Linked DNA regions of Homo sapiens. Each later gene encodes a partner of the first gene's protein in a complex. Links are inferred from orthologs where the notes say so. Each region holds a gene or a part of one and is shown in the gene's direction. Other genes may lie near its edges.

What was found.
Region 2: the proteins of STAT2 (region 1) and IRF9 are in contact, whole or in part, in a crystal structure (PDB 5OEN), measured with the Mus musculus proteins. The link is inferred for Homo sapiens from one-to-one orthologs. Residues at the interface, in NP_064347.1 of Mus musculus: Arg163, Gln164, Lys166, Asp167, Glu168, Asp170, Val171, Phe174, Arg175, Thr177, Val178, Phe179, Leu181, Lys182, Asp188, His190, Gln191, Gln193, Gln194, Leu197, Thr201, Lys204, Met208; in NP_032420.1 of Mus musculus: Leu206, Leu208, Tyr212, Leu233, Asp234, Arg236, Ser244, Glu245, Ser246, Ser247, Met248, Asp270, Arg271, Leu274, Val275, Ala276, Asn278, Ser279, Arg280, Phe283, Val284, Gln285, Leu287, Cys313, Glu315.

Annotation. Positions count from the first base shown.
Region 1 is NC_000012.12:56,350,017-56,357,313, reverse strand, and holds part of STAT2 (signal transducer and activator of transcription 2), read left to right. Parts: intron 1-735; 5' UTR 736-742; coding exon 743-873; intron 874-1,028; coding exon 1,029-1,182; intron 1,183-1,510; coding exon 1,511-1,606; intron 1,607-1,781; coding exon 1,782-1,871; intron 1,872-1,962; coding exon 1,963-2,038; intron 2,039-2,450; coding exon 2,451-2,536; intron 2,537-2,699; coding exon 2,700-2,848; intron 2,849-5,863; coding exon 5,864-6,022; intron 6,023-6,123; coding exon 6,124-6,216; intron 6,217-6,425; coding exon 6,426-6,485; intron 6,486-6,881; coding exon 6,882-6,902; intron 6,903-7,123; coding exon 7,124-7,217; intron 7,218-7,297. UniProt on the Homo sapiens protein: Signal transducer and activator of transcription that mediates signaling by type I interferons (IFN-alpha and IFN-beta).
Region 2 is NC_000014.9:24,164,178-24,167,275, forward strand, and holds the end of IRF9 (interferon regulatory factor 9), read left to right. Parts: intron 1-409; coding exon of another isoform or gene 410-436; coding exon 437-778; intron 779-879; coding exon of another isoform or gene 880-1,006; intron 1,007-1,669; coding exon 1,670-1,785; intron 1,786-1,944; coding exon 1,945-2,019; coding exon of another isoform or gene 2,020-2,078; 3' UTR 2,079-2,388; downstream 2,389-3,098.

The DNA of each region.
Region 1 (7,297 bases):
AATCCTAGTACTTTGGGAGTCCGAAGTAGGTGGATCACCTGAGGTCAGGAGTTTGAGACCAGCCTGGCCAACATGGCAAAACCCCATCTCTACTAAAAAATATACAAAAATTAGCTGGGCGTGGTGGTGGGTGCCTGTAATCCCAGCTACTCAGGAGGCTGAGGCAGAAGAATCACTTGAACCAGGGGGATGGTGGTTGCAATGAGCCAAGATCATGCCACTTCACTCCGGCCCAGGCAAAAGAGTGAGAGTCCATCTTAAAAAAAAAAAAAAAAAAAAAAAAAAAATACAGATTAGGCATTCCTAATCTGAAAAATTTGGCTCCAAAATGCTCCAGTGAGCATTTCCTTTGAGTGTCATGTGGGTGCTCAAAAAGTTAGATTTTGGACCATTTCAGATTTCAGAGTTTTGGATTAGGGATGCTCGACTGGTAAGTAATGCAGATATTCCAAAATCTGGACAAATCTGAAATCCAAAATGCTTGGAATAGCAGATACTCAACTGGTAGCACTCCCTGGAAGAATATGCACCAAACTGATAGCAGTGGTTACTTCTGGAGAGGAGGGGAAAGAACCAAGATTAGCAGTAGGATCAACATATATTTTAATGTTTTCTGTATTTTTATTACTTGTATAATTTAAACATTTTAAATTAGTAATAATGAACAATCATGAAACTATGGATGATTTAGTCCAGCAAAATATCCAATTGGGAACCCTCATCCTTCTGACGCAGAGCCCAAATGGCGCAGTGGGAAATGCTGCAGAATCTTGACAGCCCCTTTCAGGATCAGCTGCACCAGCTTTACTCGCACAGCCTCCTGCCTGTGGACATTCGACAGTACTTGGCTGTCTGGATTGAAGACCAGAACTGGTGAGGCCTTCAGGAAGTTGGGGGAATGAAAAAGGTGGTTCCTTACTTCTGGGCCCCCGGGATCCTGGAATCATTAATGGCAGGAAGGGGTTGGAAAGCCTCAGGACTACAGTAACACTGCAGAGACACTAATACTTCTTATTCCTGGTGCCCAGGCAGGAAGCTGCACTTGGGAGTGATGATTCCAAGGCTACCATGCTATTCTTCCACTTCTTGGATCAGCTGAACTATGAGTGTGGCCGTTGCAGCCAGGACCCAGAGTCCTTGTTGCTGCAGCACAATTTGCGGAAATTCTGCCGGGACATTCAGGTACTTGGAACGGTTGGGAGTGATGGGGTAGCACTGGGAGCTGAGCATAGAGGAGTAAGGTTTGGAGAATAGAATAGTACCTGGAGGTGGAAAGGGAGACGGGAACAAATGTGGGGAAAGGAGGACAGAGTCTGGACTTGGGGAATCACTAGCAGAGAGAAGGGTTGCATATACGTGACACTGTTGGGAGGATGCTATGGTGAAAAGACAAAGGGCTAAGAACCCCGAAGGAGGAGGAAATACTGTGGACATTGGTGGGGAGGGTCTAGGGCAATAGGTCATTGAGAGTGGTTGAATTGGATCAATCCTTTCTGTTTACCTATTCTAGCCCTTTTCCCAGGATCCTACCCAGTTGGCTGAGATGATCTTTAACCTCCTTCTGGAAGAAAAAAGAATTTTGATCCAGGCTCAGAGGGCCCAATTGGTGAGGACAATTCAGTGGTAATGTTGGAAACTCCTGAAGTAGAGAGGAACCATGGAAAGGACTCAGGGAGTTGTCTCAGAACAGGATCCCCCCGACATCCTGTGGTATAATTTCAGGCCTGAACTTAAGGCATGAAAGGCCAGAGTTAAAACGTGCTCAGAGCCTCTTTTTTCAGGAACAAGGAGAGCCAGTTCTCGAAACACCTGTGGAGAGCCAGCAACATGAGATTGAATCCCGGATCCTGGATTTAAGGGCTATGATGGAGGTTAGTAGATGTGGTAGGAGTTAGGGTTGACAGCGTTCAGCCTAACACCTCCCTGAGAAGCAGCCTCATCGGGGTCCTCTCCCCTCTGCAGAAGCTGGTAAAATCCATCAGCCAACTGAAAGACCAGCAGGATGTCTTCTGCTTCCGATATAAGATCCAGGCCAAAGGTAGGAAGCACATTGAGGGGCTGGAGAAAGATAAGTGCCTGCTGAGAAGCCGGAGCTGGAAGTGAACAGGAGAAAGCTCCGATGAGCAGTAGTCACTGTCAGACACACCCCACTGACTACAGTCCTGCTGCCGTGCAAAGCTGGAAGTGCTTTGTGGAGGCTGAGCTGGAGGTGCAGCTGAGAGACAGTAAATGTTGAGGAAATGCATGGAAAACTAACAGTGTTTTATTTGAGGGGGTGTCTGGTCCAAGCATGACCATTCAGAATTTGCCTGAGGGTCCCACAGGTGCCTGTGCTTTGCTTGGTTTCCCTTTCTTCCTCCACAAAATTCCTCCTTCCTGACTCTGACTGAGACCCCAGTCAGGAAGGAGAGGAAAGAACCCCTGGACTGACTCCTGTTCCCACCATCCAGGGAAGACACCCTCTCTGGACCCCCATCAGACCAAAGAGCAGAAGATTCTGCAGGAAACTCTCAATGAACTGGACAAAAGGAGAAAGGTGGGAGACAGAGGACAGAACATGTGGGCAACAAGGACCTGGAAAAATGAGGGATGTGGGGACCCTGGTCCTCTAGCGCTGGCTTCTTTGTTTCTTCATCCCCAGTTGGGTGGTGGAGGGTGAAAGGGAGAGATGCTCAACACTCACATTATCTCTTTCCCAGGAGGTGCTGGATGCCTCCAAAGCACTGCTAGGCCGATTAACTACCCTAATCGAGCTACTGCTGCCAAAGTTGGAGGAGTGGAAGGCCCAGCAGCAAAAAGCCTGCATCAGAGCTCCCATTGACCACGGGTTGGAACAGCTGGAGACATGGTGAGAGGTACCACCCCAACCCTCGTCCTCGCCATGCGCTGTGATTTGTAAGTTGCAGTGCCCTGCATATAGCAAGAGATACTGTTCTCTATTTGTCTCTGCTCCCCAGAATGAGCCCTGCTCCCTGCTGACTGCAGCTCTATTCTGCTCCTCATCCTCACCACGCAGGGAGCCCAGAGCCCAGTCTCCTTCAGGGAAAGGAATGAATTAACCCACAATCTGGTTTTTCCTTCTTTTTTAATCACCCAGAAATATATATATATGTATTTTTTTTTTTACTGCAACGAATACAATGACAAGAAAGGAAGGAAGGAAGGAGGAAGAGAAAATTACCTATTACCTAGCTTATTAAACAAAAATGGAATCATATTGTCCATACTATTTTGAAATCCATGGGGTTTTTTTTAAGCTTAACAGTATTTTTTATATATATATATATATATATATATTTTTTTTTTTTTTTTTTTTTTGAGACGGAGTCTCTCTCTGTTGCCCAGGCTGGAGCGCAGTGGCACGATCTCAGCTCACTGCAACTTCCAACTCCCAGGTTCAAGCAATTCTCCTGTCTCAGCCTCCCGAGTTGCTGGGATTACAGGCACACACCACCATGCCTGGCTAGTTTTTTTGTATTTTTAGTAGAGACGATGTTTCTCCATGTTGGCCAGGCTGGTCTCAAACTCCTGACTTCAGGTGATCCACCCAACTTGGGCTCCCAAAGTGCTGGGATTACAGGCGTGAGCCACCATGCCCGGCCAACAGTATATTATATTTATCCATGTTATTTCTTATGTCCACACAACAGTCCCCTATATGGTGGTAACATAATTTAATTAATGAACTCCTATTTTCAGCTATTTAGGTTATTTTCAATTTCTTGTTACCTTTTTCCAGGAAACGCTATATTTTATGGTAATTATATTGTGTTGTAGAAAAATCACTAGTGTGTCCTCCAACATACTTGAAAAATACCTACTGTTTTCAATATTTTCTCATTTAAAAATTTATTATAATTTAGTCTTTTAGAAATATACCAGGCCAGGCATGGCGTCTCATGCCTGTTATCCTAGTACTTTGGAAGGCTGAGGCAGGAGGATCACTTCAGTCTTGGGGTTTGAGACCAGCCCGGGAAACATAACAAGACCCCATCTCTACAAAAAAAAAAAATTTGTTTTTTAATTAGGCATGTCCGGACACAGTGGCTCACACATGTGGCCAGCACTGTGGGAGGCCAAGGTGGGTGGATCACTTGAGGTCAGGAGTTCAAGACCAGCCTGGCCAATGTGGTGAAACCCCATCTCTACTAAAAATACAAAAATTTGCCAGGTGTGGTGGCGCATGCCTGTATTCCCAGCTACTCAGGAGGCTAAGGCAGGAAAATCACTTGAACTCGGGAGGCAGAGGTTGCAGTGAGCTGTGATCATGCCACTGTACTCCAGCCTGGGTGACAGAGCGAGACTCCGTCTCAAAAAAAAAAAAAAAAGATTAGGCATGGTGGCACACGCCTGTAGTCCCTAGCTACTCAGGAGGCTGAGGTGGGAGGATTGCTTGAGCCCAGGTGTTGGAGGCTGCAGTGAGCCATGATTATACCACTGTAGTCCAGCCTGGACAACAGAACGAGACCCTGTCTCTAAAAGTATATATGTACACATACCATAATACCCAGCTACTGAGGAGGCTGAGGCAGAAAGAGTGCTTGAGTCCAGGAGTTTGATGTCAGCCTGAGCAATATAGCAAGACCCTCACCTCTTAAAAAAAAAAAAAGTAGATTAAAAAAATACCACAATTGCTCAGGTAGATTGAAAAACAGGCATATAGTACTTATGGTACAGGACCAGCATGCATGCATGCATGCATTGATTGATTGATTGATTGATTGATTGAGACAGGGTCTCTCTCTGTCTCCCAGGCTGGAGTGCCTGGCCTTAAGTGATCTGCCCACCTTTGCTTCCCAAAGTGCTGAGATTACAGGTGTGAGCCACCATGTCAGCTGGCGAGGCTTTTTAAAAGATAGTTCCAAGTGTTACAGCTCTTTTAGGATTTGTCTAGCAGGCTTTCAGGTTTTTGCCAGAAACCACCCCCACCCCCACCCCCACCAAAAAAAAAAAAAAAAAAAAAAGATAGTTACAAATGTTTCCCAGAATAGTTGTCCCAATCGAATCTATTTTCTCATGTGTAGTGTATGGTTGTTTTCCTGTCACCACATTGCTGATTATTATTATTTTTAATTATAGAGACAGTAAAGTACAGTAGTTAAAAATGTGAGTTGGGGCTGGGTGCAGTGGCTCACACCTGTAATCCCAGCACTTTGGGAGGCCAAGGTGGGCGGATCACCTGAGGTCAGGAGTTCAAGACCAGCTTGGCCAACATGGCAAAACCCCGTCTCTACTAAAAATATATATATATAAGTTAGCCGGGCGTGGTGGCACATACCTGTAATCCCAGCTACTCGGGAGGCCAAGGCAGGAGAATCTCTTGAATCCAGGAGGTGGAGGTTGCAGTGAGCCAAGATCACACCATTGCACTCCAGCCTGGATGACAAGAGAGTGAGACTGTCTAAAAAAAAAAAACAAAGTGTGAGTTGTACAATGAGACTGCCTGGGATCACATACAAGCTTCATCCCTTACTAGTTGTATGACCTTAAGCAAGTCACTTAACCTTTCTGTGCCTCAGTTTTATCATCTGTAATGTGGGGAAAATAATAGTACCTGCCTCAGAGGGTTGTTTTGAGGATTAAATGCATTAATATGTGGAAAGGGCTTAATATAAGTTGTACATAGCATATGAAAACTGTTATGTTAAATCTATTAGCAGTTTTATATGTGAAAATAGCTTTGATTTTCATTTCTTGGATTATGAATCATGTTGAATAATCCTTTATATGCTTCCTGGATTCTTTTTTTTTCTTCCCCCCAGTCAGTTTCTGACTCTTCACATATTTACAGAGAGATCTTGGAACCTGGATGGGGGAATCCAGGAAACTCATGGATTCCTTCTTCCTGAATTTTATCACCCAGGTTCACAGCTGGAGCAAAGCTGTTGTTTCACCTGAGGCAGCTGCTGAAGGAGCTGAAGGGACTGAGTTGCCTGGTTAGCTATCAGGATGACCCTCTGACCAAAGGGGTGGACCTACGCAACGCCCAGGTCACAGAGTTGCTACAGCGTCTGCTCCACAGGTCTAGAGGCCAGGCAGGAACCCTGGGGGAAAGAAGGAACAAGGGAAGCCATTCTTACAGATACTGAGCTATATATTCTCTCCACACCTCTCTCTCCTCAGAGCCTTTGTGGTAGAAACCCAGCCCTGCATGCCCCAAACTCCCCATCGACCCCTCATCCTCAAGACTGGCAGCAAGTTCACCGTCCGAACAAGGTTGGCATTCCAGAACTCATTCCCACTTCCTTTTTCCAACCCTGCCACTGTGTATTTTCTGGCTTTACAGCTCTTCCCACTCTTGGCTTTTTCTTCTCTTTCCCTGCAATCTCCCTACCTCTTATAATCCCTCTTCTCTTTTTCAAACATCTAGTCTATCCGGAAGGTTGAGGTTGACCACTTTCCCCTATCCCCCTTCCTTCCCCCAGGCTGCTGGTGAGACTCCAGGAAGGCAATGAGTCACTGACTGTGGAAGTCTCCATTGACAGGTAAATTGGAGCAGGTGAAGGGTGGCCAGGACACGGGCTGCTGGGGTGGAGGAGATACTCACTCTTCACAACAGGGCCCTAGGGCTATCTCCTTCCTCCTTCCAATCCTACCTCACAGAAATTATAATTCATTTCTTTTGTTGAACACTTACTTTGTGACATGCAGCATGTCAGCTACTCATTTAATTGTCACACCAACCCCATGAATAAACTATTACCAGTGCACTGTACAAACAAAGATACAGGCTTAGAGAGACTGATTACATCTCTTCTCAAGGCCACATAGCTAGTGAGCTCAAGTCGGGTTTGAACCGAGGTCTGTCTGATCCCAAAGACGAAACTCCTAACTTCCATACTCTTTTGCCCAATGATTTTTTTAAATTTATTTCTTTTCAGGAATCCTCCTCAATTACAAGGGTAGGTGCTTGACAAGGACACTGCAAACATCTGTACAGTGTATGACCTGCAGAACCACATTCGGCAGCCCTGGTGGCACAAACAAGGAAGAGGGGGATTTGGGATATGGACAAAGGGAGATGGCGAGATCTGAAATGAAGTGGAACTTCTGTTTTTTTTTTTCTGCTGAGTTTTTAGAATAATTCCATTCCTTGTCTCCATGTATCTTCCTCCTGGAACAGCTTCCGGAAGTTCAACATTCTGACTTCAAACCAGAAAACTTTGACCCCCGAGAAGGGGCAGAGTCAGGGTTTGATTTGGGACTTTGGTTACCTGGTAAGAATAGTTTGTGACCTATGCTTTTATTACTATTTTTATTTTTTTGAGACGGAGTCTCACTCTGTCCCCCAGGCTGG
Region 2 (3,098 bases), on another chromosome or scaffold:
GGTCTTCCACCTTTGACTATGCATGCATTATCTAGTCAGTCAGGGCTTACAGCAAACTGTACCCACATTACCATAGCCCTAGGCAGTGGTTTCTAGGTGGCGAGAATTCCATATGCCTGGCCAGACTCCAAAAAGCTTGCTTCCCAAAAATACCACCCTATACACTCTCCTGGAAATCTACATTGAGACATTGATTTCATTGGGCCAAACAGAGGCCCAATCTCAAGGGACCTTCTAGTAAACTACAAGCCCCTGGGCATTGAGCCCTGAGGCCTCATGGTGAATCACATACTAGCTACTTGCCTCAGTGATAGGAAAACCTGAGAGGAAGCCCCCTGGCTGGTGTGGGGAGGGGAGGTGGAGTTGTTCCCCTGGGGAGGGGCTGCTGCCAGCCTGCATGCTCCTCCAGCACCAGGTAGGGCTGTTCTATCCCCAGACTACTCACTGCTGCTCACCTTCATCTACAACGGGCGCGTGGTGGGCGAGGCCCAGGTGCAAAGCCTGGATTGCCGCCTTGTGGCTGAGCCCTCAGGCTCTGAGAGCAGCATGGAGCAGGTGCTGTTCCCCAAGCCTGGCCCACTGGAGCCCACGCAGCGCCTGCTGAGCCAGCTTGAGAGGGGCATCCTAGTGGCCAGCAACCCCCGAGGCCTCTTCGTGCAGCGCCTTTGCCCCATCCCCATCTCCTGGAATGCACCCCAGGCTCCACCTGGGCCAGGCCCGCATCTGCTGCCCAGCAACGAGTGCGTGGAGCTCTTCAGAACCGCCTACTTCTGCAGAGGTGAGGCTGTTCTCTCTGGGCACATGAGCTTCCACCCCCTACCTCTTAGTACCCCCTGGGCCCAACTTGTTGGGTCCTGCTACCTCCCTATCTGCCAGCAGATCCTCCATGTAGCCTATGCATGGCACTCCTGCGCTTGTGTGTTGCATATCCTGTGTGGCCATATGCCCAGCCTGGCAGCTACCTGGCAGCTCTCCTCCAGCCAAGACAATGGAAGAGGTGGTTCAGGTAGAGCCCAGCACAAGAGTGTCATATCTTGGAGAACACCATCACACTGAAGCATGCAGTCACTATGTGAAGGTGCACAGAAGAATTGGCACAGAGATTTTGAGCCTCATGGCCTTCTCCTACGTACACACATTTGGGAGAGCTGGCACACATCACACACACTGGCCCTGGCTGCACCGTCTTTACCACACTCCAGGCATGCCTTAGGGTTGCGCTTCTCTCCCATCCAATTCCAGCTCCTACTCAATTCTAAACCTGACCTTAAGAGTGGGACCAGGTGTACAGGGGGTGCAGAGTGTGGGTGTTCCCAGGGCCATGGGTGCCCTAGCACTGGGAGGATGTGAGCAAGTAGCAAAGGTCTGGGCACATCTGAGTTAGCAGCCAGGGCTGCTACCTGGGAGGACTCTAAACTCTCCCAGCAGAGAGCTTGTCGGGCTGTGCTGTGATCTGCTACTTCTAAGCACTTATATGAGGCAGGGGCACCCTTTCCTATTTGCACATGGGTGAGTAGCACTTAGTTCCAAGTACTTCTGACCTTGCAGCTCCTGCTCTGGCAAGACCCCCTCCTACCTCTCTCCATCATGGGTTCCTCACTATTGCCTCCCTGCCTGTGGCCCTCTCTCTTCTTTTTGTTCTTCGAACCCTTGACCCTTTCTCTTTCAGACTTGGTCAGGTACTTTCAGGGCCTGGGCCCCCCACCGAAGTTCCAGGTAACACTGAATTTCTGGGAAGAGAGCCATGGCTCCAGCCATACTCCACAGAATCTTATCACAGTGAAGGTGAGCTCGGAGCAGGGGTAGAGTACCCATCTAATGAGAGCAGAGACAGTGGTGCTCCAGGAGGCAAAGGGGGTCTCCCAGTGGGGAAGGAGCTCCTGGGGGTGGTGTCTGTCCCTGATGCACGCACTGAGATGCTCTTCTCCATCTCTTCCAATACAGATGGAGCAGGCCTTTGCCCGATACTTGCTGGAGCAGACTCCAGAGCAGCAGGCAGCCATTCTGTCCCTGGTGTAGAGCCTGGGGGACCCATCTTCCACCTCACCTCTTTGTTCTTCCTGTCTCCTTTGAAGTAGACTCATTCTTCACACGATTGACCTGTCCTCTTTGTGATAATTCTCAGTAGTTGTCCGTGATAATCGTGTCCTGAAAATCCTCGCACACACTGGCTGGTGGAGAACTCAAGGCTAATTTTTTATCCTTTTTTTTTTTTAATTTTGAGATATACGCCCTCTTTCATCTGTAAGGGACTAGGAAATTCCAAATGGTGTGAACCCAGGGGGCCTTTCCCTCTTCCCTGACCTCCCAACTCTAAAGCCAAGCACTTTATATTTTCCTCTTAGATATTCACTAAGGACTTAAAATAAAATTTTATTGAAAGAGGAATCAGTATCTGATTTTCTGGGAGAAGAAGGTAGCAGTGGTCACAGATAGAGATGTAAACTTAAGAGTGGGGCACTGGGGTTCTCTTCCTGCTGACATCTCCAGCCTCTTTCCTCTCCTCTGCCCACAGGTTCTGGCTAAGATGCTGCCTGGGCCCTGTGGGTCCTGGGCCTGGCACTCTACAGAGGTACCCTCTGGGCAGATAAGATTAGGGTGTGGGTTGGGCACCAAGCCTTCAGCCAGGCACTATAGCCACCAACTTCACATGGTAAAGTCTGGGCTCCACAGTTCTTGCTAGAAGGCCCCAACATCGGGCCTGAGGTTAGTTAGATTGGAGGTCTAAATGAAGAGGAGACACTTGAGGGTGACCTGAAACTATGGTCTAGAGGCCCTGGGACCTGAGAACAGAGGAGTCAGAGAGAAGAGTTGCTGAAACTGTACCTGCTGTTACTGGCACCTCTTCCTCCAGCACAATTTCACTGTCACCCCAGCAGGGTACTCCCAAACTGGATTCCTTGCTCTATCTAAGCCCCATAAAAGACACTCTGGCCGGCTGGGCGCAGTGGCTCACACCTATAATCCCAGCACTTTGGGAGGCCAAGGTGGGTGGATCACTTGAGATCAGGAGTTCGAGACCAGCCTGGCCAACACGGTGAAACAGCGTCTCTTCTAAAAATACAAAAATTAGCCAGGCCTGGTGGCGGGCACCTGTA